Linked DNA regions of Homo sapiens: region 2 is linked to region 1. The links come from fine-mapping of genetic effects on gene expression. A gene starts in region 1. The other region holds a variant in brackets. All regions are shown on one strand. Distances are from middle to middle.

Region 1 (4,397 bases):
AGATGGTAGACAGGGGGCTTTGTTGTGGGGGTTGAAAGATGTAAGATCTTTGTCCTAAGGACAACCAGAATTATTGAAGGACTCTAAATAGATGAGGAGAGGAGGGCAAGGGAGAAGTCAGGGCCGGCAACTGGGTATTTTGGCTTGGGGAGACTGGATGGATGGCAACTCCATTGGCTGAGATGGGAAACAGAGGAAGCAGACAGAATTTGGAGGTAAGCTGCAGGTTACATTGGAAATGAGAGTGAGACATCCAAACGGAGATGACAAAGAGGCAACTGGCTATATGGATCTGAGGTTCAGGAGAGAGGTTTGGGCTTTTGATATGAATTTATGACTCATCAGTGTAATGGGAACTCTACTGGAGAGAGTATACAGAGAAGATGGAATAGACAGAGACCCAAGGAGCACCAACTTTCAGAGAAATGAAAGAGGAAAAGCCTGCAAATGAGACTAAGGAACAGCTAGAGGTTACAGAAAGAGTTTGTACATTAAAATATTTGTACCCATTATTTGGGTCCTGTTATTGGAAACATGTTTAATCACAATTAAATGTGACTTGAAATTTATCTGTTTTAAAATTTATTTAAAAACGTTGTTTATATTTAAAAGAGGAACAGTAAATCCTCACATCGCAGGGTTATGAGGTTCAAATACAAAAAGTATTTGAAAATATTTTGGAAAGTATTATACCAGTGGTTCTCAAACTTTAGTAGTATATATCAAAATCATTTGGAGGGCTTGTTAAAACACAGATTGCTGTTTTTTTTAAAATTATTATTTCAGTAGTGGTAGTAGCAGTTTCTGATTCAGATCTGTGGTAGGAACCTAGAATTTTAATGTCCAAGTTCTCAGGTGATGCTGATGTTATTGGTCTAGGACCATCCTTTGAGAACCACTGTGTAATACAAATGAATTATGGTTTTGACTTTATAGCCAAATTCATTGAGTTTTCCTCCAATGTTAGTCTCTTTCTTCCTCTAATGCTGTTATTTCCTTACCTTGCTTCACACCTAGCAATATCCGTTTACACATGTGAAAGACCAACTTAGTGAAGTATTTTGTTGACTGTTTACAATAGTAAGCAACGACTTCAGGTTAGCTTAATTAAGGAGAATAGGAAAAATATATGGTTTTTTTTTTTATAGGGAGATAAGAAGGAACTCTTTGGAATAAGAGGTGGGATTTCTGTTTTCCCCAAAGTCAATTAGATGTCAAATGCTACTTGTTACCAACTTTCCAAAATCCCATTAGAGACCTTGTAATTTGATCCAGAGAGAACAGCATTAAGAGTCAGGTAAAAGGAAAAACTGACTTCATTCTTCATTCCTTTCCTAAATCCTGAGAAATGTGTATACCTCAACACTCCCTTTTCCAATCCCGCAAAACAGGGAATCAGGAAAACACATTAGCACCCTAGTACAGACTAGGAATACAGAGCTGGGAGGAGACTCAGTGCCGTCAAGACAAGGAAACTGGGGGAGGGGAAGGAAAACTTCCCCTCGTTGGACAATCTGAGGGCTGCAGTGGGAAGAGAAGGGAAGTGGGGAAATGTACCTCAGACGTCGGCCAGACACTTTGCCTCTGGGCATGTGGGAAAGTGAGGGAGGAGGGAAAAGCGCTGCACCACAGCGAGATAGCAACAGCTCCTGCGGCTGCTTTTGAGTGAAGATCAGTAGAGATAGAGCGTGCCGCTTCACATCTTCCTCCCGGAGGCCATTTCTCCATTTTTATGTGGGATAAAAAGGGGGCGCTGGGCTGAGTCAGTATAAGCCAAAGTTGCCGCCTCTTGCGCAGCCGACCCCGCTTCGGCCCCGGCCCAGGCCAGAGAGGTGGCCCTCGGAGATGCTGAAGTTACTCCGCGCAGGGGGAGGGGTCGCCAGGCTCCTCTCCAATCACGGTGGCCGCTCCAGCTATTTGCATACATTATGCTAATAACAGACCTCCTGCCCCGCTCCCACCCAAGCTTCCCGCCTCCCTTGGGGGTTCCCCGGGCCGGCCCGCGGGCTGGGCCAAGGTGAATACATTATGATAATAAGGCGGGCTCCTGCTTTGCCTTCGGAAGGGGGGCGCGCAGCAGCGGGAGCGGCAGGCCGGACGCCGGGCGCCGGGAGGGGGTCGGGGGAGGGACGTCGTGCTCGGAGCGCGCGCGCACTCACACACTCACACACACACTCACGCGAGCATCGCGAAGGGTATTTAAGGATCGCGCACGCGGGGCTGCGGAGATCCTTCGGGCAGCCGCGACTTCGGCTTCGCGAGTAGCATTGGTTCCTTGGGTTTATTTCGTTTTCCTCTCTCTTCTCCACCTTAGTCGCCCCTTTCGCGCTGCGCTGTAGCGTGCTCTCACAGCCTTTTTGCCTTGAACTGAATGCAGGTGGGAAACAGGTCGGCGTGCCGAAAGACACCGAGTAGGTAGAAATAAGGCAAACTCACAGAGGCGCAACAGGTCCGGTCCTCCGTGGCCAGGGCGAGCCGCGGCCCCGCGTGGCGCCTCGGCCGTTGCCCTCGGACCCTGAGCGGCCACTGTTGGGGCCCTCGAAAGAGGTGTCGGTCCTCTGGGAGTCGGAAGAGCTGTCTGGGTGGGTTTCGTCTTGCTTTTTACCCCACCGCCACCCAGTCCCCGGACGGAGGGTGCTTTTCACTTCCAGCTGGGAGGAGAGAAGAAAGCGGGGATGGTGCACGCCTGCGGGTCTGGACGCTGAGCAAGGCAGGGGTCCGTATCCGCTCGTGGGCTTGACTCCACCAACTAGTTGTGCAGCCACAGGGACTGAACTTTGGAGGAATCGACCTTTTTCTTTCCTTTTAGGATTATTTGAGGTGTAGAGGGTGGGAAGCGAAGCCGAGACGGCCGACCCCGCCACGATGCTGCTGAAGAAGCACGCAGGGAAAGGAGGGGGCCGGGAGCCCAGATCCGAGGACCCGACCCCTGCCGAACAGCATTGTGCCCGGACCATGCCCCCGTGTGCCGTCCTGGCGGCCCTCCTGTCAGTGGTGGCCGTGGTGTCTTGCCTGTACCTGGGTGTGAAAACCAACGACCTCCAGGCGAGGATCGCCGCTCTCGAATCCGCCAAAGGGGCCCCTTCCATTCATCTGCTGCCTGATACCCTGGATCACCTCAAGACTATGGTGCAAGAGAAAGTGGAGCGACTTCTGGCTCAGGTGTGAGAGGCTGGGGTATTTTGCACGTGGGTAACATCTTGTACAAGCGTGACTCTGTGTGCATGACTAGCCGCTACCCTTACTGTACCCATACTTGGTGTGGCTGTGTGTGTGCGCGCGCGTGCATGTGTTGGCCAAGGATCTATGCTCACTGTAGCATATATTTATATGTGCACATCCCTTGATGTCCCCATCCCTATCTCTAATCTTCCCTCACTCTCTCTTAATGTTTGCGTGTTAAACACATAGGAAGGTCTAAAAGGGTTCGGAAAGGGCATTTTATCTCTTTTTAGTTGTCCTAAGTCAAACCCAATTGTGGAGAGAATATTTCTTGCAGAGATAGCATCTGTTAAATCTTTTACATGTTGTAAGATGGTTAGGGTCATAGATGTTATTAATATATAAAAAAGGTAATCACTCTTAAATGTAAAATAATGTCATATATAATTTAAAATCAATAATTTCACACGTTGAATCTTTTCATATTAAAAGTTTAAACTTTTTTTTTTTAAAGTAGCTTTATTTTTGGTAAAGGATGCAGTGCCGGGGTATTTATGAATGCAGAGCCCTTGGAATTGAGAGTTGAGAGGAATCTATGTTATGTGTAAGGGTACCTTTAGACTAGAGTAAGGGGGTTTTCTGGAACCTTACCCTAGCCGGGAGCCTATTTGGCAGTAGTTGCAGCCTAGCATGATAAATAAAGCAGTTGACCTTCATGTATAAAATATTGGCTGTTATTGGTAAGCCACAGCTTACCTAATACTGCAACATTTTAGTGCTAGGTTTTTACATTGACTGCATATGCTTGAGCTGAGGGAGAGAGTGGTGGTAGAGAAGAATGGAGAAAGATGTTATACAAGTCCAGCAATCTTGATACCCTATCAGTGGTCATTTTCTTTTTTTAGGACTTAGGCATGGTTACTTTCTTGACTAGAGTCCAAGTACATATGTAAATGTTAGTTATGCAGGTTATGAAATGCCGGTAAATCAGGCGTATGGCCAGAGTCCCTAAAGACTCCATCCCTCTACAGTGCTACTGATGATTATTAATAACTCTTCTTTTCCTACAGAAATCCTATGAACATATGGCTAAAATAAGAATCGCAAGAGAAGCACCTTCAGAATGTAACTGCCCAGCAGGTAAAATGGAACTTATTTAACAAGGTTTCCTCCAGAGCAGAGCATTTTAAAACAAAGGTCCTGTGTCTGTCAAGTCTACCTGTAATAATAGTAAA
Region 2 (4,397 bases), 580 kb after region 1:
GCACCTGCCACCATGCCCAGCTAATTTTTTGTGTGTTTTTAGTAGAGACAGGGTTTCACCGTGTTAGTCAGGATGGTCTCGATCTCCTGACCTCGTGATCTGCCCACCTCGGCCTCCCAAAGTGCTGGAATTACAGGCATGAGCCACCACGCCCAGCCTTAAATCTTAACTTATATATAAGAATCACCTGGAGAGATTGATAACCAGTTTCTTGACCCTCAGTCCCAGAGATTCTAATTCATTAGGTGTGGGAAGGGACATGAGTTTTCATTTCTAATAAGCTCACAAGTGGTACCAGTGCTGCTAATCTGAAGACCATGCTTTGAGAACAACTAATATATAAACAAGGATAAATGATAAGACAAAGATGTATGCCAGATAATGGAAGTCCTAAAAAGAAATTAAAATAATATTTAAGTCCAGGCATGGTGGCTCACACCTGTAATCCCAGCTCTTTGAGGGGCCGAGGTGGGTGAATCACCTGAGGTCAGGAGTTTGAGACCAGCCTGGCCAATAAGGTGAAACTTCATCTCTACTAAAATACAAAAATTAGCCAGGTGTGGTGTCACAAGCCTGTAATCCCCATTACTTGGGAGGCTGAGGCAGGACAATTGTTTGAACCCCGGAAGCAGAGGTTGCAGTGAGCTGAGATCACACCACTGCACTCCAGTCTGGGCAACAGAGCGAGACTCTGTCTGAAAAAAAAAATACAGAAAATAATAATAATGATGATAAAAATGTTTAAAAAAATAAAGGAGATAAATTTTCAAAAATAAAGGGGGGAAAACAATAAAAGACCTCAGAATGAAAGGCTTCATAGAGGACTAAACATAGGGAACAAGATAAAAATCCACTCCTAGAATAAGAAGAGAAAATTCTAAAATACACTGTACAGAAAAATAGATCACCAACCAAAATTAAAATTCGAGTAACACCAAGTTTTTTCAACAGCAATATGATAAGCAAGACACATGAGATAATATTTTCAAATTTTGAAAGAAATGCAGTTACAATTTTATACCAAGCCAAACTAACATTCAAATATGAAGGCATCATAAACATTTTCTCAGGCATACACAAACTTTAGCTGGTTTGTGCATACAAAAATCCACTTTGAAGACAGTATTAGATGAAATGTTTAAATAACAGGAAAGAGATGTATAAGATGCTCCAAGAGACATGAAGTGAAGAGGATTAAATTCCTTGGAAAAGTTTGACCTTGTCATAAAAACTAGCTAAGGTAAAAGCAAAACTAGAACTATTTATAACAATAAAGTAAGTAAAATTATATATTTCCCTTTAGGTTTCAAGAGCTGCCTACTCTGTGCTCATCTTATTATCTGAGCAACTCTCTTCCAAATCCTGTCAGGTAGTAGGGACAAATGGCACCTCCTCCCTCCAGAAGAAAATATTCACATGGCTTTTGACAAAAATATACTTTTCAAGATAGGTGCTTGCTTGCTTAATATTTAATCAACCTCTAAATTCATGTTTCCCTATAGCCCTATTTCTCCTAGGAAAGTTACCTAAATCTTTAACCAATAACTTCAACCTGGACAGTCCTACCTCAGGAGTTTAGAAGTGGCCCACACTTATTCAGACAAGCTCTAGCAAAAATCTAACCAAACAATTTCTTTTTTTTTTTTTTTTTTGAGACGGAGTCTCGCTCTGT[C/T]GCCCAGGTTGGAGTGCAGTGGCGCGATCTCGGCTCACTGCAAGCTCTGCCTTCTGGGTTCACGCCATTCTCCTGCCTCAGCCTCCAGCTGGGACTACAGGCGCCCGCCACCACGCCCGGCTAATTTTTTTTTGTATTTTTAGTAGAGACGGGGTTTCACTGTGTTAGCCAGGATGGTCTTGATCTCCTGACCTTGTGATCCGCCCGCCTCAGGCTCCCAAAGTGCTGGGATTACAGGCATGAGCCACCGTGCCCGGCCCCAAACAATTTCTTGAAGGGGAATAACTTCTTCAGTTGCAGATAACCTCCTTATCTGCTCCCTCTTCACAGGACTCACACAGCAACGTGCAGTACAAACCTTAACTTTCTAACAGAAGGAAAATGACTTTTGTCTAACTTAAAGGTTATAAAGGTAAAGAGGTATTTTTGGTAAGGAATGTTATAGAGAAAAGAGATTTTGTATATAAACAAAAGACCTTGTATGATAAATTATTGTCCTAAAGTAAAATAGTTGTTAAAAAAAGAGGGATGTTTACTACAAGTCAGAAAGTCCAGGCATGTCATAGATGGTCTGTGTAAGTCTGAAAAATTTATGAAATAAATGTTGTATAGTTTAAAGGTTATTAGGCCTACTAAATGCTTCATAAACTGCTACTATGACTCTTAACTGTACAATTCGCCTTCTTTAAAGCTAGGTAAGGCCAGAGGACACACAGAGTTAGCCATGTCCCCTAGCTATGCTGAGAAGACTCAAACATTATCTGCACTTCTGTCTGGTGTCCTAGGCTCCACACCTAGTACATAATTAGAATTACTTACTTACCAAAAGTAAAAGTTGGTAAGGGTTAGCAGTGTAACATGTACTCGAGACTACTGGAAAAACAGTTTTACATGCAAGGTGTGTAAGGAAAGTAGAATGTGTTTTGGTAAAAGATTATAGGAAGGCATGGCTGGGTGCAGTGGCTCACACCTGTAATCCCAGCACTTTGGGAGGCCAAGGTGGGTGGATCACGATGTCAGGAATTCAAGACCAGCCTGAACAACATGGTGAAACCCCATCTCTACTAAAAATACAAAAAAAAAAAAACTATCCAGGCATGGTGGCGCACACCTGTAGTCCCATAGTCCCAGCTATTTGGGAGGCTGAGGCAGGAGAATTGATTGAACCCAGGAGGTGGAGGCTGCAGTGAGCTGAGATCATGCTACTGCACTCCTGCCTGGGCGACAGAACAAGTCTTGAGTGAAAAAAAAGAAAGTATACTTTACTCAAGTGCTGAAAACTATAAATAGCTTTTTAAAAAAGTGTTATTAACTCTGGAAAACAAAACAAAAAGAATCAGTAATGTTTTAAACAAAAAAATTATTTCAGTCCTCCATCAGTTCAGTCCTATGTAATTAATTGTTATTCTGTCTGATATTAAGTTAGCAGTTTTATGAGTCCAGTTTTTCCCCAATGGTGTTATTGAAATTCCTACCCAGTTCAATTGTATGATCTCAAGGTCATAAGCAAAGGTCTGTATTTCAGATTATCTAGCAGAGTCTTTTTATCCTTTCCCTTAACCTCCTTGAAGACACAAGGCTTTAATATTTCCAAAGAGCTTTTAGAAAAAGATCAGAATAAAGCAATTTACCACATATACCAAGACATATCAGATTTTTAAGATTCTCATATAATTTTGAAACACATATTAATAACACATCCATACAAATGTAACTCAGAGTTAAATATCATTTCTTATTTGACAATGCTTCCTATGTGATTTTAACATAACAAATAAGCCTAATATGTCTGTCTTAGATATCCAGGGGCCCTTTTTGAATGTCCAAAACCAGTTCAAGGTAAAAAAAAAAAAAAGGCTTAATTTAGAACATGAAACTTTGATTTGGGAAGTTTGTTGAATACCTAAGGTTTATTTTGTTATCAAAATATGAAAGATTGAAGACACTTAATCATAGGTCATGAGGATCATAGGTCACTATAAAATAATAGTCACTAATTTAGCCAAAATGATAATTTAAAGATTTCAAAAAGCAAAAATTTTACTCTTTGATAGAGAGGAGACACTATTTTTCAAACAATCAAAACACCTGATACAGACAGCATGAGACTAACAAAGTCTGTCTCTTCGTCTCTTTCTTTTTACGAAGTTTACTCAAAAGGCAAACAAAAATCTTTTACTATCTCTTATTAATAGCAAATGAAAATCTTGTTTAAAAGAGAAAACCAAACTCTACCCTTCTATCAATCAGTGTATTATTAATATTAAACATAATTTTAATAAAACCTTATAAGCAGATCTGTCTAATCTCAATCATGTTTAACCACAAAGATAAGATTTTCATAAATCTTTTATAACCTCTCACAATTTTTCCCATTCTATTTCTTTCCCCAACTTTCTATATTCATTCAGTTTTATCTATTATTCTTACTTTATTCCTCGAATTTAAAACACCTTGTAAACAACCTTTAAACTAGACAAAATTACTTTTTATTTAACAAAACTACATTTTCATGATTTTCTCATAACCTTCCTTTCCAAAACACATCCTACTTTCCTTGATGTCAAGGTCATAAGCAAAGGTCTGTATTTCAGATTACCTAGCAGAGTCTTTTTATCCTTTCCCTTAACCTCCTTGAAGACACAAGACTTTAATATTTGCATATAGAATTATTTTTAATTAGAATTATATATTATAATATTTGTATATAGAATTATTTTTCTTA

Alleles and levels. Positions count from the first base shown, and alleles are read on the strand shown. Sizes are in standard deviations (SD) of each study's normalised expression.
For the expression in prefrontal cortex of the gene that starts at base 1,850 in region 1, allele C in region 2 goes with a higher level than allele T (large effect, 1.1 SD a copy in CommonMind).

Evidence for each region. PIP is the estimated chance that this variant, and not a neighbour inherited with it, causes the effect. A credible set is the group of variants that fine-mapping cannot tell apart.
Region 2: its variant is the best candidate, but not a certain one, in a credible set for the expression of COL25A1-DT in prefrontal cortex (CommonMind, PIP 0.66).

What each region holds. Positions count from the first base shown.
Region 1 is chr4:109,300,488-109,304,884 of GRCh38, reverse strand. COL25A1-DT (COL25A1 divergent transcript) reads right to left here and starts at 1,850. Exons shown (of 3, transcript NR_160939.1): 1 at 1,558-1,850. COL25A1 (collagen type XXV alpha 1 chain) reads left to right here and starts at 2,227. Exons shown (of 38, transcript NM_198721.4): 1 at 2,227-2,716; 2 at 2,810-3,162; 3 at 4,233-4,302. The coding sequence starts at 2,866. RefSeq lists an enhancer at 1,373-2,155.
Region 2 is chr4:108,723,538-108,727,934 of GRCh38, reverse strand. No RefSeq gene overlaps it. Among named protein-coding and RNA genes, the nearest start is that of ETNPPL, 37 kb to the left of the region's middle. The variant C/T (reference allele first, on the strand shown) is at 1,673.